Linked DNA regions of Homo sapiens: all the other regions are linked to region 1. Evidence: fine-mapped expression QTL. A gene starts in region 1. Each other region holds a variant in brackets. All regions are shown on one strand. Distances are from middle to middle.

Region 1 (4,929 bases):
CAGCTAGCATCAAACTTAATACAGAAAGGCTGGGTGTTCACCTCTTGAACCAGGAACAAGACAAAGATGCCTGCTTTTGCCACTTCCATTTGACCTTGTACTGAGGTTCTGGCTAGGGCAATTATCCCTGAAAAAGAAATAAAAGGCTTCCAAATAAAAGAAGAAGTAAAACTATCTCTACTCGCTCATGACATGATCTTGCATATAGAAAATGTGCACATGTACACACACACAAACCATTAGAACTAATAAACAAGTTCAGCAAGTTTGCAGAATATAAAATGAATGTACAAAAATCAAGTGTTTTTCTATATACTAGCAATTAACAATCTCAAAATGAATTAAAATTCCATTTACAATAGTATCAAACATAAATTATTTAGAAATAAAAAGTGCACTGAAAACTACAAAATATTTTGAAATAAATCAGAAAAGATTTAAGTAAATGGATCACTTGAACCTGGGAAGCAGAGGTTGCAGTGTGCCGAGATTGTACCACTGCACTTTAGCCTGGGCAACAGAGGGAGACTCCAAAGAGTCGAAAAGAAAAGAAAAGATTTAAATAAGCTGAAACATATTCTATGGATCAGAAGACTTAATATTGTTAAAGTGACAATATTCCCCAAATTGATCTACAGCTTCAACTCAACCCCTATCAAAATCCTAGCTTGCTTTTTGGCTGAAATTGACAAGCTGATTCTATAATTTATATGGAATCTCAAAGGATCCAGAATAACCAAAACAATATTGAAAAATAAAGAACAGCGTTGGTGGATTAACATTTTCCAATTTCAAAACTTACTATAGCACTGCGGTAATCAAGCAGTGTGGCACTGTATAGCATGTACATTACAGATCAGTGGACTAGAATCAATGTCCAGAAATAAACCGTTATGTTTATAATGAATTACTTTTTAATAAGGTGTCAAGACAACGCAATGGGAAAAGAATAATGAATTCAACAAATGATGCATGGACAACCGGACATGCACATGCAACACAATGAATTTGAATTCTTCTATCGCTCCATGCATAAAAACTAACTCAAAATGGGTCACGGATGTAAATGAAAAGCTAAAACTATAATAATCCTAGAGGAAAACCTAGGAGTAAATCTTTAAGATGTTATTGTAGGCAGTGGTTTCTCAGATAGGACCCCAAAATCACAAGCGACAAAAGAAATTGGACTTAAAGTTAAATACTTTTGTGCTTCAAACATCATCAAGAAAGTGAAAACACAACCCGCAGAAGCAATAAAAATGTCTGTAAGTCATGTATCCGATTAGAGACTTCTATCCAGGATATATAAATAATGCAATTCAATGATAAAAAAGATAAATAGCCCAGTTTTCCAAAGAGTCAAGCATCTGAATATACATCTCTCCAAAAATATACAGATATCCAACAAGCATGTGAAAAGATGTTCAAAGCCATTTGCCAGGTGCACAAACCCAAGACAGTATGAGGAGATGCTACAGGGACTCTGCTGCTTCACAGACATGAAGCGTTGGTGAGAATGTAGGCAGCCGCCTTTGGGGACTTCACATCCCCGCCGCCCCACGCACGGTGAGCTAGTGTTTAAACTTAGCCGAGATCAATACACGCGACTGTGTGCCCGTCAGACCCTGCGCTGCCGGCGGGGCTGGGAGAGGCGGGCGCCAGGAGTGGGCGGGAACCTGGGGGTCAGGCCCCAGCCGCGGGAAGCCGCCCAGGAGCGCGCGAAACCTTCTCCACACCCTTCCAGGCATTTGCCCGCCGCGATTCAGAGAGCCGACCCGTGACCCCTGGCCTCCCCTAGACAGCCCCGCATGTCCAGATGTGCCGTCCCGCCTGCCTCCCGCGACCACTGGCCATCTCTGGGCCTGGGCGCGGTCTCGGCGCCCGCCTGCCCCCGCCAGGAGCCGCAGGTCCAGCCAGTGAAGAAGCCCGCGCTGAAGGAGCCTCTGTGCTCCAGAATCCATCCTCAGTATCAGCGCTGGGGTGGCCTCCTCCAGGAAGCCCTTCTGATTCTCTCATGGGTCGCTCTTCCTCTGCAGACTCCCGGAGCACCCCTGCTCCAAGTACCGCAAGTGGCACTGAGAACTTGGGGAGAGCAGAGGCTGTGCCTAGATTTGTAGGGAGTCCCCGCAGCTCCACCCCAGGGCCTACAGGAGCCTGGCCTTGGGCGAAGCCGAGGCAGGCAGGCAGGGCAAAGGGTGGAAGCAATTCAGGAGAGAACGAGTGAACGAATGGATGAGGGGTGGCAGCCGAGGTTGCCCCAGTCCCCTGGCTGCAGGAACAGACACCTCGCTGAGGAGAGACCCAGGAGCGAGGCCCCTGCCCCGCCCGAGGCGAGGTCCCGCCCAGTCGGCGCCGCGTGAAGAGTGGGAGAGAAGTACTGCGGGGGCGGGGGCGGGGGCGGGGGCGGGGGCGGGGGCAGCCGGGAGCCTGGAGCCAGACCGGGGCGGGGCCGGGACCGGGGCCAGGGACCAGTGGTGGGAGGAGGCTGCGGCGCTAGATGCGGACACCTGGACCGCCGCGCCGAGGCTCCCGGCGCTCGCTGCTCCCGCGGCCCGCGCCATGCCCTCCTACACGGTCACCGTGGCCACTGGCAGCCAGTGGTTCGCCGGCACTGACGACTACATCTACCTCAGCCTCGTGGGCTCGGCGGGCTGCAGCGAGAAGCACCTGCTGGACAAGCCCTTCTACAACGACTTCGAGCGTGGCGCGGTGAGCGCGGGCGGGGCACGGGTGGAGCGCGGGCTGAGGTGCGTCCGGGACCCGGTTTGGACGGCAGAGGCCTGGGCGGGGGCGCCGAGGGCCCGTCGGGGCGGCCCGGACAGGACTGGGGGTGTCCAGGACCCTGTCAGGGAGGGCAGAACTGCGGTGGGGCGTGCCCTGGGCTCCCAGTGGCCGGTGGGTACCCTGGTGGGCAAGCGTCCAGGACCCCTCGCGGCGGCCGCGACCCCTGTCGGAAACGGAGACTTCCCGCGTGCCGCCTGCAAGGCGTCTTCCCTGGGAGGAGAAGGCCCAAGGTTTCCCCTCCACTTCAAGATCTGGGCTCCGAGGCTCCGGAGCCCCCTTCACTGGGCCGCGTTTCTTGTGCCACCTCTTCCTTAGGCTCCTTCTGCAGGTCGCACAGGGAGGGAGAGGCAGATGAGTCATGCTCACAGAACTCTGAGGGCACCTCGGAGCAGCCAGCTGTGAGCCGTGGGGAAGGGTGCACGTCAGCGGGTCCAGAGGCCTGAGTTCTGTCCAGACATGACCACCAGCTCACTCTACCGTCTGTCTGGGCCTCAGTTTCCCCAGCTGAAAATGGAGGGTTGGCTTCAGTCTGGTCCATGAGTCATGGGTGAGCCCAGGCCCATCTGGTGGCTCAGACGGCACCTGGGCAGCTTACATTCTCAGGACAGTCCCCAGAGGAAATTAAAGGGAAGGAACAGAACCCAGGCCAGGAGAGGCTTTTCCTAAATGGAGGGGCTGCACTCCCTCCCAGCAGAATGTACACCAGGGAACACTTCCACGCTAGGTGTGAGGACGCGAGGGAGCCCTCAGCATTTGGAAGCTAGTTCCTAATGCTGATCTGGACCTGAATTCCAGCCCCACGACTCTTTTCCATGAGCATGGGCAGGTCGCAGTTCTCACTGAGCCTTTAATGAAGTGCCTAATCCAGTACCTGGCACAGAGGAAGCGCTCCGTAAATGACTGGTAATAGTCCCAGACATACTGCAGGTGCGCAGGGAATATCAGTTCCCTTCCACCCCACCCCAGCTCCTAACTGGACCAAAAAGATTTAGACTTTACCAAGCTGCCTTCTCACCATTTAGTTTATTATTTGATCAAACCTTGTGAAATTGCTCATAATGGACAAATACAACCGGCAAGTTCATGTTTCAACTGATTACTCTTGGATAAAATTTGTGTTTTAGGTGTGCAGAGCCTAAAGTAAGTAAAAACTACTCTTTTTCTGGATTCCAAGCTCTCCATGGGCTCGATTCCTATCCAGGAGCCCATACCCTCGCTGTAGCACGACATGGCCCTCAGCCAAGTTCACTAGCATCCTGGCTTGAGCTCCCTTCAAGAAGAGTTAGGTGTTGAGTACAAGAGCAACCTTCAGTTGCTTAGTTGCCCCAGTCGGGGAACTGACCCTGAGGACTGCGGTGCCCTGGAGTTAATGTGTCGTCCATTTAGGGTGATGGCACCCTCTGCCATTTCTGACGCACCTTCATTTACTTCCATTATTTCATGGATTCCCCACACCTGGGGGAGAAGGACAGGGTACAGGCTACTTCCCCTTTGTAAGTGCTTCCTCCTCCCCATTCTCCTCCACACATCATAAGGTTCTAGAAGCACAGGCCATTGGTGTGCTCACACTGCACAGCACGGGCACCCCGTGTGTGCTTTCCTCCTGCAGGGGACATGATAACGTGGCCATAGCGGGCTCTTCGGACAAAGAGTGAAGGCACTGTTTTGTCCACTATCTCCCTCTCTCGGTCTGTCTTCCCCTACCCTGAGAAGTCATTCAAATGACATTATAATTAAACACCTCAGCCGGAATCCCAGGGGCAAATTTCAGGAGAGATTTGCATGTCACATTTCCATTGGGTTGAGAGGGCTATAAGTCAGGGGTGGGGCGGGGGGTGGTTGGGGGTGGGGGCTACCGCAGGGTGGGGAACCAGCTAAGGCTGAAAGTTTCCTTGAAAAAATCAGCTTTTGAGAAAGTTCCTGTTGATGCAAAGTTACTCAACACTTTCTCTTGCCCAGCCCAGAACTACTTCCTCATTCTCCCAGCTTGGTATCTGTAAAGACAATCATCCTTTTTGGGTAAAGGTAAAAGAGAAACCCTAGAGGAAGTACTTGCTGAGAAGACAAGGTTATCCCATTTTACAGGGAAAAGTGTTAAAATCTGTATTGTTAACAGTAGTAACGATAACAATAACAATAAAGGTA
Region 2 (4,929 bases), 150 kb after region 1:
AGCTGTTTCTCTCAACACTCCCAGACAGCTCTCCAGTCACCTGCCAAGGCAGCTAAATCTATTCACTCTGCTAAAATATATGTATGTACCTCCTTATTAACAGCCAGGCTCACCCTTTGGCCTGCAGTATGTATGGGAACACTGGATTGTAAAAGCAAATTAAAAGGACAGACAGTTTGGCACAATGGTGGCAACAGTGGTGAGTAGCACAACAAGAAGTCAAAACATGGACACCAAATTTCCCTGGAGTATCAGCTAGTTGACAGTAGAGTTGTGAATCCACTAGCACTTAACCAAGTTATTAAAAACTTTTCTTATGGACTATACACGTGAACAATTCTACCGATGTTTTAGGGCCTCCTTCCATTCCCCATCCCAAGAATAGTAATATGAATATAATGTAAAAAGAGAACCTCTTAAGAAGGGCTCAAAATAGTTTGGATATTTGTCTCCACCAAATCTCATGTTGAAATTTAATTGCCAATGTTGGAGGTGTGACCTGGTGGGAGGTCGACTGGATCATGGGGGCTGATCCCTCAGGAATGGTTTTTACCACCATCCCCTTGGTGCTGTCCTCATGATAGAGTGATTTCTCAGAAGATCTGGTCATTTAAGAATGTGTGGCACCTCCCCAGACCTCTTGCTCCTGCTCTCGCCATATGAGACAACACTCTCCCTCTGCCTTCTGTAAGCAGCCCAAGGCCTCACCAGAAGCTGAACAGATGCCGGTGTCAGGCTTCCTGTACAGCCTACAGAACCACGAGGCAATTAAACCTCTTTATGAATTACTCAGTCTCAGGTATTTCTTTACAGCAACAAGACAGCCTAACATAAGGGCTTAGAACTGCTATAACTAAAACTTCACACAAAAAGACTCTGGAATACAGTGCCCTTCACATTTTCTTGTATACCTTCATGAAAGTCTATATTCTCCATGTCCTCCTTAGCAGACTGATGTCTGGGTGAACAAATATATAACACAGGCAAGGATTTGCAATGTTTTTTCATGACAAATGTCAAACAAGCATAAGAGACTGCTAGGCACTATTAATTGTAAGTGATAAACTAACCCTCCAATTTTAAGATGATCGTGATCTTAGCAATCTATGTTTCTTGAATATTTTAAGTTAAAACTTAATTTTTTTGCATTATCAGGTACTTCTCTCAGAGACTAGGCTTCCTGGCAGCTAATACAAGAGGTGATGAGTGCACATCGTATCTCAGGTGTCTCATAAAGAATTCTGGTTGCTCTTGGTTGTCTGAGATAAAAGGCCTGATGACTATGGAGGGGCAGGCTTTCATAAGAATTATCAATGAAGGCAAGGTGATGGTTATCAGGCAAGTCCTTCCAACCTTCAGAAGAACTCTGAATTAAAGTTGGACTGACCCCTGAGTATCTGTGATTCTACCATCACAGTGCCACATCAGTACAGAAAAGAGAGCTCCGATGACACAGAACGCAGTTTGCAGCTTGATGACATGTGTATTCTCGCACTGCTGACATTACAACCAAGACCTCAGAACTCTTAAGACAACAGCAATGGTATGTCCTTGAGGCAGCAGGAAAGTATCAACAACCTACCTGCCTGCAGTTCACCCATTCATGGATTTTCCCTGCCTAGACTACTGCTCTAAAGACTCTGATCTGAAGAACTTTTGCTTTCCATGATCTTCAAAACCTGCCTCCTCAAACACTGCCCAATACTCTAGACGAGATATCCAGTTTGCTCTGACCTTTACTGTACATGTTTGGTCCTTCCAGAATATTAGGAGCTTCCTCAACTCCTAACAGATTGCCCAAGGGAGCATCCTGTGGAATGGAAATCCGTTTCCACATTATCTCTGTAATGCCAATCCTGCTGATCTCAGTTCAGCAGCAAACTGTAACCCCTGGACACTGGTATGGTTCTAGAGCCCTCTTGTAACTTTCAAGAGCATTCCCAAAGCTACCAGCATCCTATCATTGCTCTTGGCCAGAATGGCTCTAATAAAGCATGTATCATACACTAATCAAAATGGCTTAGCTTTTAAACCACTGTACTTGTGAGAGGACCTAGTAACACCTTCGTAACACTTCCTTTGTCAGTGTTACAAAAGAAGTAACAAGGATCCCACCACCTTGTAAAAGCTCTAAAAGATATGCTGGAAGGGAGTCTACACACACAAAAAAACTTCTGACAGATTTCACCAACTGCTGTCTTTTTCAATTTGATCTTAAAATGAAAATATAAAATATGTGAGTAAAAATTTAAAGTGCCATTCGTAAAGGATTGAATATATCTTCATTCAAGCATGGGTATCATGTGGATACCATCCCTTTGTTCATGAGTAAGGTATCATCTGTACAATAAGGAGTTCCTACTCTATTACATGAGATAAACAGGTAAACAACTAACAGATATGACTATGTGGCAAAACTAAATAAACGCCATATCAGAGATACAGATGCTAGTTTCTTGTATCCTCCCACTACCACCCATCCATCCACAATGAGAACAGAAAGGAAGGAGACATAAGGGAAGGTTTGGGAAGTCAGTAAGTAGACTACTGCAATAATCTAGATCAAGGGTCAGCAAACTTTTTCTGTAAAGAGCCAGAGAGGAAATATTTTATGCTTTGCAAGTCATATTCTCTATTACACCTACTCAATTCTGCCATTGTCAGACAAAAGTAGTCACAAGGAAATGAGCATGGCTCTACTCCAATAAAACTATATTTATGAAAACTGAAATTTTGATTTCATATCATTTTCATGCATCGTAAAATATTAATCTCTTGACTTTTCTCCAACCATTTAAAAATGTAAAAACCGTTTTTAGCTGGCAAGTCATAAAAAACAGCAGTGGCTGGATTTGGACCATGGGCTATGATTTGCCAGCCCCTGACCTACACGGCTGCCTGAAATACAGCAGTAGCACCAGGGCAGAGAGGAAGGACAAAGAAAACATTTCAGAGGTGGAATCAGTAAAACTTATTGATGAGTGGC[G/A]CATTAAGAGCAAAGTCGGCAAAAGGAGCTCCCTAGTTTCTAGCCCAGGTGACTCAGAGGGAATGTCATGAACAAATAAGAGCAGCAGCTCTCCTTCACCTGAGGAGGACAACAGCACCTGGAGTGCACCACTCACTGCCCAGGTGATGAGAACTACGCACTCAGCAGCAGTGACCCAAGACTCAAATCCCACCTCCATCAGTTATCACATACCCAACCTTTTTGATTCTCAGCTTCCAAATCAATCCATAAAGTGATCATGACCACAACAGTAATGCCTACTTCAAAGGGTTGCTGTAAGGATTCAATTTAGTGAGTTAACATATGGAAAGTCCTTGGGACAGTGCCTGGCTCACAGTAAATGATATGTAAGTGTTAGCCATTATTCGAAATATAAAAATTTTAATCCATAAATGTTATAGAGGCAATTTATAAATACCATATGTTGGCCTACTTAAATACAGTAAAAAACAGTATTCACAGTAATAAACATTCTTAAGCATTTAAACCATCTGTGAATACTTGACATAGTATACAGCATTATTTAAGCTAAATAATATCAAATTAAGTTCCTTTCATACTGGGGAAAAAAATCAATGCTGAAGTAGTGCTGGCCAGGATAAACTGTACAAAGGTATGTGTGGTTCAGGGTAAAGCAAAGTCAGTCTTGAGAGTTAGAATGGGACGAGGGTCTAAAACAGGTGACAAGTACAACTGTGGCCTGGGCTAGTCACCAGATTTCTGGGGGACTCCATCAGGCGCTTTTCTTATGTTCTAAGAATTTACCTAGTCTACAAGTTCCATTCTACCACACGAGGGGGCGTGAAGCAAATACCAATGTGAGATTAAAACCTGCTGCAATTACTGTACTTCTAAAAACAAATCAGTCTGACAGCAAGAATGTAATTACATTTTTTATTAGGAGATAGAAAATACAAAATATTTTATGAGGATTAAATATAATTGGAATATTTTCTATGATTTGATAAAAAGAAGCATTAACTACTTTGTTGAATGATACACATTTCAACTGAAAGAAATCACAAAATACTTTTAACTTTGTTCTTTATCTGTAATATCTTGAAAAGTTGCTGTTCAAAGGTATATTGCTTTCTAGTTAATTACCCATCGTAGCAACTAAACCTGTGAACAGCTAAAAAAAATAATCAACTTATCTTTAATTACGTTACATTTTTTAGAAAACTATTTTCATCACTTGAAACTCACTCTGCTTTGCTTTTAAGGGTCTTTTCCCCAAAAGTTCTTCATTGAAGAACAATTGATGGGGAATGAAGTCACTTTTATAAATCTACCTATGATATATCTGAATCCAGAATGTGCCCAAATACCTTCATTTTGAAGCCTCTTGAATAAGACAGGAAAAGATAAACTGCCTAGGCAGGTATACCATGATTTGATTAAGCAGTAAAAAAGATTACCCAAAACCAGTAATTCCAAGTATTCCTTTGTTTGATGACCTGATTTTTATTCCCTAGAACAATGCAGCATAGCAAAATTAAGAGACATAGTAAAATGTAGGGGCCTTTCCTTCTTCAGAGTCGAAAACTAGCTGCTCAGAAATGTGGGTGCATGAACAGTTTTAGGCTCAAGTGTATGTGGAAGGTAAAGATCTGAAAATGGAGTCGTTAAAACTGCCCATGCTTCTGCTCCTTTTGGAAAGTCTGCCTGTGCCTCCCAGACATGGTGCAAACCAATGTTTACATAAGATAACAAAAAATTTGGAATTAGATTTAAAATTATATGAATACCTAGGAAGTGTGAGATAACTTGCCCATTGGCCTTTAAATTATTTCGTATAATTTACTATTTATTATTGTCTACTGCGACGCTTTCTTCAGCTCACTTTCGGCAAGCATAATCTTTTATTTCCCAAAACTTTTGATTTGAAAAACTTTAAATCTACAGAAAAGCTAAAAGAATAG
Region 3 (4,000 bases), 45 kb after region 1:
TTCTTGGTTGGCTCAATTGCAGGTGAGAGCCCAGATGTCTCTGCCCAGAAATGGAGATACATCCATAGGGACGCACCCGCCCCTGCCATCTCTCAGGTCCTACATGCATAGGATGCTCCACCGTGGGGAGCCAGCAGGGCTTTGCAGAGCATCTCTTGTCTCTGACCTAGCTGTTTCCTTTGCCACACCCACCCTCCCCACTTCTTGGCCAAGACATGGGTGAGGGGCCCCTTCTTGCAGAAGCTTCTAGAAGCCTCTGGCCCCAGTGAGGTCCCCTCCCCTGTACTCCCCAGTGCCGCCCACCCTGCCCTTGGCCCCAGAAGTGCTGCAGCCCACGTTTCTCCACATCGTCCTGTCATTAGCCCCTTGAGTGATGGCCTATTGGCAGGAGCAGAGCGAAGGAATCCTGAGAGGGGCCCTTCTGCCCCTCCTGGCCCAGCAGGCTGGACAGTAAGCTTAGCCCCACTCTGAGCACCGCCTCTGTGCTGGCACAGTGGATGGAGACCCTTGAGTTCTGCGGGGGAGAGAAGAGGTGTCCCTGTATTTGAGGAGCTGAGCCAAGGGGGCTGGACCACAAGGAAGCAGCTTAGAGGAGCCTGTGTGGGGATGAGGGGTGCCTGGGAGAGGGCCCTGGGCCGGTGGGGGTTGGGGGGACCCTAGGAAAGTCGTCTAAGTTCCCTGAGCCTCGGTGTCCTCAAATGAACAATGAGACCCGGCCCCAGCTCCTCCCCAGGGTTGTGAGATTAAAATGGGATCGCACACATCAGCCCCTCAGGGAAGTTTCTCCCTAAAGACAGCCTTTGTCTTCTCCATTCTTGGTTCAGGCCCTCTGGGACCGCGTCTCCACCATCACACACCGGCCTAGGGCTGCACTCTTGGAAGGGCCCCTGCGCTTGCAGGGTGGGCAGGGGACCCTCGCTTCACCTGGGCGTCCTCTCTGATGGGGCCCAGGAAGGCTTTGCAGCCGGGGGCCATCTGACCAGGTCTTACTGGGCCCAGGCAGAGGTACGTGGGGCCTGGAGAATGGCACAGGGGGCTGCAGCGGAGAGAGACTGTGGGCACAGGTGTGGCGAGGCCAGGCCGCCGAGAGCCAAGTGGTTTGCGAAATTTCCTGGTGGTGTGGAGGGAGGAAAAGCTGATGTGTTCACCTCCCCACTCGCTGTTTGCAGCCTGGAAGACGATTGCAGGGGGTGGCAGGGCTGAAAAGACAATGTCCTCATTAAAGGAAATTGAGAAAGAGAGTTTCCTTCCCAGTGGGGCGGGACAGTGCAGAAATGCGGCCGGTCCTGGAAGAGGTGGGGGCGAGGGGTCGGGGGCTCACACGCCCTGCGATTTCCTCCCATGAGAATGGGCGGGGGCAGCTCCGGGAAGGGTGGCGGATGGAGCCGCCCTCTCCCCAGGACCACAGGGGCGCTTTCCAGTGAAGGCGCCGTAGGAAACGCCAGTCTGTGCCGCAGTGTACGTAGAGGCGCTATGAGCCCGAGTTTCCCACGTCCAGGGACAAACTGGGAGCCGTGACTGTCAGGCCGCGCGGAGGCTGCCCTGGCCGCCTTTGCGGTCAGGTGAAGGCGCAGAGGCAGGGAGGCCGGGCGAGCGCAGGCGGGCGGAGAGCAGACCACGCGGAAGAGGCCGAGAGAGAAAGCGGG[G/A]CACCCGGCCGGGGGGGTCATTTACAAGGGACGCTGGGCACGAAGGAGGCTGGGGCGAAGATGAGTCCAGGGGTTGGGTTGAGAGCGCTGCGCAGCCGGGCTGAGAAGAGAAGCTGACGAGTGACTCCCGACAAGGGACGGGGGAGAGGGAACCTGGGGGCAGGCAGAGGCCTAGGGGGTGGGCTCTGAGGGCAGCCACTCCCACCGGCCCTCCCCCAGCCCCGCAGGCCAGCCACATGCCCCGTGCTCCAGACGACCCAGCTACATGGATGGCAGCGTCCTGAAGGGGGATGATCGGTAGGGAGTGGGTGCGGAGGCTCACGCCTGTAATCCCAGTGTTCGGGGATTCCCGAGCGGGAGGATCGCTTGAGCCGGGGAGGTGGAAGCTGCAGTGATCTGCGCCACTGAACTCCCGCCTGGGCGGCAGAGTGAGACCCTGTTTCAAAAGGCACCAGGGGTGTAGGGAAGGAGCGATATCCCCCAGGCAAGGAAGGCTGCGGAGGGGCCAGGCCAGGAGAGAAGGGCCCTGAGCTCAGTGGACGGGCAGGGTGCCTGTGGAGGAAGGGAGGGACGTAGCAGCAGGAGGAAGGGTGAGGACCCAGGCTGGGGATCGGGAGAAGTGATGGCGGAGGAAAGAGAGGCCGGAAGAGGAGGGGGCCTGCTGGCCTGGCACTGGAAAGCAAAGCGTGGGTTTGTATATGGGAAGAAGACCACATCCCCTCTTATCGTCATCCCAACTCAGAAACCATTTGGCCCCAAGTCACCAAAGCACTCATAGGAACCACTTTTCCTGTGACACAAGTAGGATTCTCCCACTTTTAACTTCCCAAATGCTACCCGAAAGCCTCTGAAATCCTTGGAAATTTAAAAAATAATCCCCTTCTATTAACTGATGCCTATAAAACATATTGACTTTCATTAAATTTTGTTATGAAATCAGGGATGTGTCCCATTGTAAAATAAATTTGTTTGGAAAATGTAGGGTGGTATCCCATCTAAAAATCAGACGAGGCTAGAAAATTTCAATTTTATTTGCTAAGGTAGCATCATGTTGTTAAAAATGCATCATAAAATAAGACCAAGAGTTAATACAAAGCATGAAGTCATGTTTCCCTCAAAAAAATGATTTGTTCTGTAGTCAAATTAATTTGGAAAACATTGCAAACTCTTCAGCAGTGGTTCTCAAAGTATAGCTTGCGTCAGAATCCCCTGGGGCCCTTGCTAAAATCTGGATGGCTACACTCCCCGCCTAGAGTGGGTTAAACTCAGTGCCCACTGGCAGGAAACTGAAACTTGGCTGAAGTCACCGAGGAGGCCTTCCCCGTTAAACCTCTGGCTGGCGACAGCTTGGTTTCCTCGCCGCTGCTTCTGAGTAATTCTGGCACGCAGTTCCTCCTAGCCACCTGCTGTACCTGGAAGGGGGCCAGCCCTCCTCAGCAGGCTTTGCTCCTGCCCTGCACAGCACAACTGTGGCGTAAAAAATGGAAAAGCTGGTAGCAGAAGGAAAGAGCAGGGAGACAGAGGTTAGGTGAACCTCAATGGCCTCATTAAAGCAAATTGAGAAAGAGAGTTTCCTTCCCAGTGAGGCGGGACAGTGCAGAAATGCGGCCCGTCCTGGGAGAAGTAGGGGCGAGGGGTGGGGGGCTCACCGGGCACATGGCCAACAGCTGGTGCCCAGCCTGGGCCACAGTTTGGCACAGGAGAAAGCTGAAGATGCAGGAGAAAGCTAGGTCACTGCCCCTAGGCCAGGTGATCAAGGTGGCTGTTACCTGCCTGTGTGGCCTTGAAAAAGCCTGGTGCCCTCTCTGGCTTGCAGGGTCCTTCTTTTTACAAAAGCGGGTCTTCGAAGCCCTGAATATTCCAGTTATCTGTAAGGATATAGAAATATTTTGCCTCTAGATGACATGTAAATATGTTCCTCCTAACTCCACTTCTTCCTACATCTGTGGCTTCTTCTGAGAACTACCAGACCCACCCTGTTTTCAGAGTAAACCTCCTGTTTTGAGGTCAAACAGACCCAGCTGGGTAATTGGTGACTCACTCCTGGTTCCTCCAAAGAACAGGGGCAAGGGACCACCCGGGACCTCAGGTGCCCCAGCACAGGACCTCTTTCTGGGGCACCCTCTGGCACTGGGCCATCTTCAGGCCCTACAGGGCTCTCGGGGCCTGCGTAGGCCTCTCATCTCCCAGAAATAAGTTCTTTTCCCCACCCAGACTGACACCAGATGCTACAGTGAGGTTTACCCCTCCAGCTTGACAAGCATTCCTAGCCCAGAACACTCAGCTGACGAGGGGTGCTGGGGGAGGAAGGAGGCAGCAAGGCTGAAAGAAGCTTCTCTGGGTATTCCAGTGCC
Region 4 (4,929 bases), 300 kb after region 1:
TGGACCCCTGACTCGTGCCCACGCGGGCGTCTGGAGGGCAGCCGCATGGCCTGCTGGGAACGGCGGGGTTGAAGCCGGAGCCGCCCTCCGTGAGACCCACCGGGGATCCTCTTCCAGGCGCCTGATTTGCTGGAGATAGGCGATACAGGCAGACGCTGTCCAGTCGGTGGCCTCTCCAGAGTGAGGGGCGCTCCTGGTGCGTTTGGGCCGGCCTGTCCTAACAAATCTGCTTTAGGCTTCACCGTCCCCTAATGTTTCTGGCCTCAATTGCCTCATCTGGAAAATGGGGGCATTACCGTGCCTGCTTGAAGACAAAGGCGAAAACAGATAACTTTCTGTAGTCCTCATACAATTTACTGAGAACTGTAGGCCAGGCAATGGAGTAGGCACCCTGGGCTCAAATCCCAGCGTTGGGTAAGCCCAGCCACACCTCCTGCTCCAGTTTCCAAGCTGCTGAGCTGCGGTGTAAACAGTAACTGGCTTCAAGCCAACACCTGCCTTTCAACCTAACATGGGAGCCCACTGCCTCGTTCCGTTCCCCCTACCGATTTTCCAACTCCGTGAACCTCCTTCACTAAGTGGGTTACTCAGCTGACAAAGAATGTCATCTCACTCCCACTGCGGGTTCACTCATCCTCGACTTCTGGCTCAGAGGAGCCAGTCTAATATGAAACTAAACATCTAATCTGTGTCTCCTGTCCTCTCTCATTCTTCTGAGACCCTACCCACCAACTTATCTCCACAGTTCAACGAACTATTGAGCATACACTGGGGGAGTATGGTGAGGCACTGGGCATTGATTCACCAGTCTCGCCGTTGGTTCCTTCTGAAACTCCACATATGCTTAATGCTAAATAGATTGGAGACCTTTGAGGACAGAGCTATGATGGTAATCATCTTTGCATTCCTGAGCCTAGAATAGGGCCTGTGATGGAGACTTACTGAGTAAAAACCTTAGCGTTTCTCACCCTTGCCTGCCCACTTCATTCACACTGGAGAATTGACAGCATGGACCGTGGAGTCAGGCAGGTGTGTTTAAAGCCTTGCCTCCCAATACCAGAAGCTCCATTACCTGGCCAAGTCATTCATTCTTTACAACATCATCATCATTATCATCTGCCATTCTTCAAGTGCCAGATAGTTGATAAGGGTCTTTACGTATTCTCTCCCCATCACAATCCTGCAAAGTTGGTAGTGAAATCCCTCGTCTACAAAGGAGTAAACAAAAGCCAATTAAAGTAGAACAATTTACCTATAATCAAACAGCTCTATGTCGGAAAGCCATATTTAAACTAGGACACAATACAAAAATCCAACCTTGTTCCATTATTCCACATTGCTTCCAGATTTTAGCTTTATCTGTAAAATTAGTGTTACTACATTACCTATCTGATAGACCATGGAGACTGAATAAAATAGCATTAAAAGTTGTTACCATAGGAACTTTTTTTTAACGTAAGTTCTCTCTCCCTTTCAAGCCTCTCAAAATAGCAGCTTGCGTATTTTCTAAACCTGTTGTCTCCTGAATCCCCTGAAACCAATCCTACTGATTGATGAGTAGATTTAGTTGTTCCAAAAGAAAATCATCGTATTTAACAAATGCTGACTCTGACCGACATTGGGTACTACAGCAAGAAACTATGTGCACAAATAACCTACGGACAGAAGGAAGATGCATAAAATGAATAGGGGAAAGGAGTGGCCAACTAGCAAGTGCCCTCATCTGTCATCACGTCACTCTCACAGCAGACTTGGGCAAATGGTTGACCTGTGGGAGCTGAACAAAATCTTTGACTCTGGGTATGAGTAATTCCCTGTCTGATCTTACAGTGCCCAAGGAAGAAGTCAGTAGCTCCAGGATCGCTGAGACCAACCTGGGCGGCCTACAAGACTGCACCATGGTGACAGGCTGAATAGTCAGCAGCAAGACGACAGAGCACCAAAAAACACAGACTAGAATGGGGTCAGCCATCCAGGTGGCTAGTGGCTACTGCCTTTGACGATGCAGATAAAGAAAATTTTCATTCCTGCAGAGTTCTATGGGGCAGTGCTGCTCTAGAGGCTGACATTTCTATCCTCAGCACTTCCCCCGGCTATTACCTAGGTTCATTCTGCTGCTTCCACAAGGCAAGAATGGAACAGAATGCCTTAGAGCAATGGTCAGCGAACTGTTTATGTAAAGGGGCAGGGCCAGGCGCAGTGGCTCACGCCTGTTATCCCCGCACTTTGGGAGGCCGAGGCAGGTGGATCACGAGGTCAGGAGTTCAAGACCAACCTGGCCAACATGGTGAAACCCCAACTCTACTAAAAATACAAAAATTAGCTGGGTGTGATGGCAGGCGCCTGTAATCCCAGCTACTCGGGAGGCTGAGGCAGGAGCATCGCTTCAACCCAGGAAATAGAGGTTGCAGTGAGCCAAGATCACATGACTGCACTCCAGCCTGGGTGACAGAGCAAGACTCCGTCTCAAAAAAATAAATAAAAGGGGCAGATAGAAAACATCTGAGGCTCTGTGAGCCATCCGGTCTCGTCATAATTACTCAACTCTTACATTGGAGGTAGGGTGAAAGCAACAATAGAAAGTAAGTAAATCAATGAATGTGGTTGTGTTCCAATAAAACTTTATTAACAAGATCAGACAG[TGGG/T]GGGGGGGGGGTAGCATAGTTTGCCAAACGAAAATCCAATAAAAATTTATTAAAGATTTAAATGTGGCCAAGCGTGGTGGCTCATGACTGTAATCCCAGCACTTTGGGAAGCGGAGGCGGGTGGATCACAAGGTCAGGAGGTCGAGAACATCCTGGCCAACATGGCAAAACCCTGTCTCTACTAAAAGCACAAAAATTAGCTGGGCGTGGTAGCGCGTGCCTATAGTCCCAGCTACTCAGGAGGCTAAGGCAGGAGAATCACTTGAACCCGGGAGGCGAAGGCTGCAGTGAGTCGAGATCGCACCACTGCACTCCAGCCTGGGCAACAGAGCGAGACTCTGTCTCCAAAAAAAAAAAAATCAAAAAACAACATTTAAGTGTAAGACCTGAAATGAGAAAACTTTTCTTTTAGGTTTTTGTCTAGAAGTTTCTAGGTATTGATCTTGACAATAATTTACAGAATATGTCACAAAAGTGGAGACATGAAAAGCCAAACTAAACATGGGACAATGCCAAATTGAAAACCTTCACAGCAAAGAAACCAATGAACAAATTAAAAAGCTTTTTAACAATTATCCAAAATACCTAAAGAACTTGTATTAATAAATAGGAAAAAAAACTGAAACAAAACAGAAAAGCATCAAAAAGCTTAAAAATAAGCAGATTTGGCCGGGCACGGTGGCTCATGCCTGTAATCCCAGCACTTTAGGAGGCCGAGGTGGACGGATAACCTGAGGTCGGGAGTTCGAGACCAGCCTGACCAACATGGAGAAACCCTATCTCTACTAAAAATACAAAATTAGCCGGGCATGGTGGCACATACCTGTAATCCCAGCTACTAGGGAGGCTGAGGCAGAAGAATCTCTTGAGCCCGGGAGGCGGAGGTTGTGGTGAGCCAAGATCATGCCACCAGTCTGGGCAACAAGAGCTAAACTCCGTCTCAAAAAAAAAAAAAAAAAAACATGTTCAGCAAGGTTGAAGCATCAAAGGTTAATAGCCAGAATCATTTATCAATTGTATTTCTACACATCTGCAAGACACAATCTGAAAATGAAATTAGAAAAACAACTTCATTGGGCAACAAGAGCAAAACTTCATCTCAAAAAAAAAGAAAAAAAAAATAGTAATCTACAATGTCATTTCCTGTTCAAGCTTGACTTCTACCTTTACTTTCTGATATGGTTTTGCCATGTCCCCCCACCCACATCTCATCATGAATTATAATCCCCATAATCCTGATGTGTCGAGGGAGGGGCCTAGGGGGAGGTGATTGGATCACGGGGGCAGTTATCCTCATGCTGTTCTTGTGATATTCAGTAAGTCCTCATGAGATCTTATAGGGTTTTGTTTTGTTTTGTTTTTTGGATGGAGTCTTGCTCTGTCACCCAGACTGCAGTACCATGGCGCGATCTTGGCTCACTGCAGCCTCTGCCTCCTGGGTTCCAGTGATTCTCCTGCCTCAGCCTCCTGAGTAGCTGGGATTACGGGCATGCGCCACCACACCCAGCTAATTTTTGTATTTTTAGTAGAGACGGGATTTCACTAAGTTAGCTAGGCTGGTCTCGAACTCCTGACCTCAGTTGATCCACCTGCTTTGGCCTCCCAAAGTACCAGGGTTACAAGTGTGAGCCACCAAGCCCAGCTGAGATCTGATGGTTTTACACATGTTTGACAGTTGCTCCTTCACATGTTCCCACTCTCTGTGCGGCCACCATGTAAGTCGGACCTGGTTCCCCTTCTGCCATGATTGTAAGTTTCCTGAAGCCTACCCAGCCATGCGAAACTGTGAATCAATTAAACCTGTTTCCTTTATAAATTATCCAACCTCAGGTATTTCTTTATATCAGTGTGAAACAGACTAATGTGCTTTCCGATAATCATGCTTCAGGAATTGGGGAATTCAGACTACCTGGGATCAAATTGTGGCCCCAACCTTAGCAGCCATGTGACCTTGGGGAGGTTACTTACCTTCTCCATCTCAACTCCTTCAGTAAAATCTGTAAAATGACATTGTTTCTGAGGGTTAAATGAGCATAGCACAGTGTCAGGCACACACTACTTGCCAGATGTCGAGTATTCATCTTTATTGAAATAGGACTGTGGTAAGCCACTTTATGGCTCTCGATTTTGTATGAGAAAATCATGCTTAGTGCCTTGTTAGTAAAAGAAAGAAAACCTGAAAGTCCCTGCCACGGAAGGAAGAAATAGCGGGGAGAAAAGGGAGTTGGTAAGTTTCAGCATTTCAGAGCTTGGAGAGGGACAAGTTAGGTTTCCATTTTATGGA
Region 5 (4,000 bases), 69 kb after region 1:
AGCACTCCTCCAGGCGCACCACCAGGTCTTCCTTCTCACTGATGGCTCCTGGTCCCCTCCTCCCACCCCTCCCCTCTCCCAGCCTCTGGGACCTGGGTGTAGACCCCCCTCTGGAACACACTCCTTATGGCCCCCTGACCTCCTACGCACCAGGAACCTGTGTCTGCCTCTTAATCTGCCACACCCCTGCCACCCTGACCTGGACCTCCCCAGCACTCTGCTTCCCGGGTCCCAACCCTCCCAACCCACTGTCTCCTGCATCGGGGACTCCAGGCCCTGCCCAGCCCTCGCATCCCTCAGGTAGCACCCCACCTCGTTTTGAGCCCTCTGTAGCCTTACCAAGCTTGGACTCTCACATGGGCCCTTGCCCCAACCTTCCTCCTTTCCCCAGCCCATTAGTGACCAGGCCAGATGACCACTGAAGTTGAGACACTGTTTGGGCTGCAAATGACAAAACCCAACTCAAACCAGCTGCAGCTGGACAAGACATGCCTTATCTCAAATACCTGGACACAATAGAGGGTCGGGGGCCTCAGCCAGAAATGGATCCAGGGACTCAAGCAATGCCCCAGGGTGCATGCACACTGGCTCCCTCTTTCTGTCTCTTTCACCTGTGTTGGCATCACACTCTCCTGCTGCAGACAGGCCCCCATGGGAGAGGGCACAGGAGCTCATCATAGTAGCTCCACCTCAGGTTCTCATGTGGCCATTATCTCCCAGCCGCATCTAAACAGAAAGTGCTGGGGGGCAGCTCTGGTTGGTCCTGCTTGGGCTGAATGCCCACCGTGGACCAATCTCTGGCACCCCAGCACCCAAGTCCTTCTTCAAAACCTCTGTGGCACCGACAGCCCAGCCCCCTGGGTGTATTTGCATGTGTGTGTGTGCACGTGGACACACATATGTGCCAGTGAGCTTGTGAGTGTGTCTGCATCACTCAGAAGCCGGGATCGGGATCAGGACCAGGATCCCTCCTTGTGGGTCTCTCCAGCCCTCACCTGAGCACACAACAGGCCCTCAACAGAGTTGCATGGGTCCTGGAAACTGAGGGTCACTGAGAGCAATGACTGAGGGTCGTGTGCTCAGCACTAGAGCAGACTTCACAGCCCAGGCCCGCTGGTGCTGGGGTCCCCCACACACCTGCCCACGCCTGCTGCCCTCCTGTGGCTGGGAGCGCACCCTTCCCTCTTGTACTCTGCAGCCCCACGGTTCAGTCCCTTGCATTGGATTGGGCGGGAGGCTCCTCCCTAGCACCTCTCCACCCGGCTGCCCTTGTCATTCTCTGCGTTAAACATCCCTCCCCCATCTCACAGGACAAGGGCTTGCACCTCTGCCTGCCTGGCCTCCTCGCCTCCCCTGGCACATTTCCTCAGGGATGGGTCTGGACAGCTGTGGGAGGAGCCACCCGCTCAGGGCACTCTACCTCCCACTCCAGGCCAACGCCACAGGGGGCGGTGGGCACGTGCAGATGGTGCAGAGGGCCATGAAGGACCTGACCTATGCCTCCCTGTGCTTTCCCGAGGCCATCAAGGCCCGGGGCATGGAGAGCAAAGAAGACATCCCCTACTACTTCTACCGGGACGACGGGCTCCTGGTGTGGGAAGCCATCAGGACGTGAGCGCCCGCGGGGCGGTGGTCCTG[G/A]GGGAGGAGCCGGGACCCCTGCCTGACTACCTGGGGCGGGCCTGGCCCCTCCACCGCTAGCGCTGAATGGGGACGGGGTGGGGGAGTCCCAGCGTCCGTGAGGGGGTTGCCGCCGGGCACCGCTCCGCAGACCTGGCTGGGTCGCCCACCCCGGCTGCGCCCCCTGAGCCAGGTTCACGGCCGAGGTGGTAGACATCTACTACGAGGGCGACCAGGTGGTGGAGGAGGACCCGGAGCTGCAGGACTTCGTGAACGATGTCTACGTGTACGGCATGCGGGGCCGCAAGTCCTCAGGTAGGGCCTCCGGGACGTCTCCGGACCCGGCTCCCCCGCAGTCGGCAGCGCTGGCCCCTCCGCCACCCCTCCGGGGTGTCCTGCCCAGGGTGCCCTCCGGCCTTGGGGCAGGGAATCCGGGCACGGGGTGGGCGCCGGGCCCTGGGGTCCTCAGGGACTGGGCCTCAGCCCGCCGGTGGTTCCACCCTAGGCTTCCCCAAGTCGGTCAAGAGCCGGGAGCAGCTGTCGGAGTACCTGACCGTGGTGATCTTCACCGCCTCCGCCCAGCACGCCGCGGTCAACTTCGGCCAGGTAGGCAGGGCCGGGCCCGCTGGGCAGGGCTCCCTTCTCAAGGCCGCTGCCTCCTCCCCCGCCCCGGTTCTGCACGCGTACTGCACCCTCGGACAGCCTCGGGGCCTGGCACGGGACTTGCAGGATGGATTCTGCCCGCTCAGCCAAGGGCGCTGGCCGCGGGGAAAGAGGATGGACGGACTGCAGGGCCCGCTGGAGTTGGGGGGCACGGGGAGGACGGGGCCCAGGGGGCAGCTGGGCAGCAGGGCTTCGGGGGTGCCCACGCTTGCTGGCGGTCGTCTCCGCAGTACGACTGGTGCTCCTGGATCCCCAATGCGCCCCCAACCATGCGAGCCCCGCCACCGACTGCCAAGGGCGTGGTGACCATTGAGCAGATCGTGGACACGCTGCCCGACCGCGGCCGCTCCTGCTGGCATCTGGGTGCAGTGTGGGCGCTGAGCCAGTTCCAGGAAAACGAGGTGAAGCTGGGCAGGGCGGGGCACAGCCCCAGGTCACCCCAGGTTAAGCGGTTCCTCAGCCTCAGGGCTTTGTGACTCGGGCCCCAAGGCTCACTTGGAGCAAAGGAATCCTGACTTCCAAGGCTGGAAGGGCCCAGAAGGCTGCAGCCGCCACCAGGTCCCCCGGCCTCAGCCTGGACAGAGCTCAGGGTGTGCAGGGCAGGAGAGCACACAGCCCAGGCTTTGCTCACTGTCACCAGAGGGTCGTGTGTGACGCCCCCTCCCCCCAGCTATTGACAAAGTTCTTGCACATGTGTTTTACCCTGGTACTCCAGAGGGAATGACCAAGAGTTTCCTGGGTTCCTTCCGGACACGTGCATCTCATTTAACCTAACAACTGAATCCGGTGTGTCTTCGTGGATGCACCCGCTTTGGGGTAGCTCAGTACTGCATAGAATGGCCGGACCAGTCCAACCTGCTCCAGACTGCTGGGTGTCTGAGTTGTTCCCGGCCAATGTGTTGGTCCCTCACTGGACATCCTTGTTTTTGTGGCTTTGCACATGTGTTCAGTATGACCGCACACATTCCTAGCAGACAAATTCCTTGGTCAAAGAATATTGATACTGAATTGCCCTCCACAAACTAAATTCAAAATCCCATTATCAATAGCCTATGTTTCTTGGACCTTTCCAGCTCAGAAGCTTTGTGATCTTAATCCAATACAGTATTTTTTTAAAATGATATCTAGCTCTGCCCCGCAGACATCTGTGTGAGAATGCAAATAAGCACAGGACCCCAACAGGGCAGCCACCCCTTCAGGCTCCCTGGCCCGCTTTCTGCCTTCCTGGGCTGGAGAGGCCAGTGCTGGCCCCAGCGCCCCTGATGGGAGGTGAGAGTGCTGCGCAGGGGTGGCCCAAGACAGCAGGATACCATGGCTGCAAACACCAGCAGCCCCCAGCTTCATCTGCATCATCTCGTAACCACTTGGCAGCAGGCAGTTATTTTCCCACTTATCCATGAAGCCCCAGCCCTGGAGCCTTCCTTAGAGAAGCAGGTTGGAGGCGACGACACTTGCCTTCCCGAGGCCCTCTTGTCAGGCAGCAGAGGGTGAATATGGGGAGGTGAATAGATGCTCCCTCCTTCATCTCCCAAACGGTGGCTGGCCCCTTGGGATGAGACAGGCCTGTCAGTTTACACGGGTAGTGGATTGACCTATGTGTGTGTCCATGTCTGGGCCCTCAGCTGTTCCTGGGCATGTACCCAGAAGAGCATTTTATCGAGAAGCCTGTGAAGGAAGCCATGGCCCGATTCCGCAAGAACCTCGAGGCCATTGTCAGCGT

Evidence for each region. PIP is the estimated chance that this variant, and not a neighbour inherited with it, causes the effect.
Region 2: its variant is fine-mapped to the expression of ALOX5 in whole blood (INTERVAL, PIP above 0.99).
Region 3: its variant is fine-mapped to the expression of ALOX5 in whole blood (TOPMed, PIP above 0.99).
Region 4: its variant is fine-mapped to the expression of ALOX5 in whole blood (INTERVAL, PIP above 0.99). The same link has a PIP of 0.9 or more in monocytes.
Region 5: its variant is fine-mapped to the expression of ALOX5 in whole blood (INTERVAL, PIP above 0.99).

What each region holds. Positions count from the first base shown.
Region 1 is chr10:45,371,721-45,376,649 of GRCh38, forward strand. ALOX5 (arachidonate 5-lipoxygenase) reads left to right here and starts at 2,496. Exons shown (of 14, transcript NM_000698.5): 1 at 2,496-2,709. The coding sequence starts at 2,560. RefSeq lists enhancers at 2,264-2,874, 2,875-3,483.
Region 2 is chr10:45,516,884-45,521,812 of GRCh38, forward strand. The region is part of intron 2 of MARCHF8 (membrane associated ring-CH-type finger 8); the gene reads right to left. Among named protein-coding and RNA genes, the nearest start is that of MARCHF8, 16 kb to the right of the region's middle. The variant G/A (reference allele first, on the strand shown) is at 2,987.
Region 3 is chr10:45,417,650-45,421,649 of GRCh38, forward strand. All of the region lies in intron 4 of ALOX5 (arachidonate 5-lipoxygenase), which reads left to right. Among named protein-coding and RNA genes, the nearest start is that of ALOX5, 45 kb to the left of the region's middle. RefSeq lists enhancers at 1,290-1,983, 1,984-2,675, 2,704-3,205. The variant G/A (reference allele first, on the strand shown) is at 1,647.
Region 4 is chr10:45,672,985-45,677,913 of GRCh38, forward strand. No RefSeq gene overlaps it. Among named protein-coding and RNA genes, the nearest start is that of ZFAND4, 2.7 kb to the left of the region's middle. RefSeq lists a silencer at 1-90. The variant TGGG/T (reference allele first, on the strand shown) is at 2,643.
Region 5 is chr10:45,441,606-45,445,605 of GRCh38, forward strand. ALOX5 (arachidonate 5-lipoxygenase) reads left to right here. Exons shown (of 14, transcript NM_000698.5): 10 at 1,433-1,611; 11 at 1,811-1,932; 12 at 2,123-2,223; 13 at 2,511-2,681; 14 at 3,903-4,000. LOC102724323 (a long non-coding RNA gene) reads right to left here. Exons shown (of 3, transcript NR_120674.1): 3 at 2,963-3,247. Among named protein-coding and RNA genes, the nearest start is that of ALOX5, 69 kb to the left of the region's middle. RefSeq lists a silencer at 1-208 and enhancers at 565-1,335, 1,336-2,104. The variant G/A (reference allele first, on the strand shown) is at 1,639.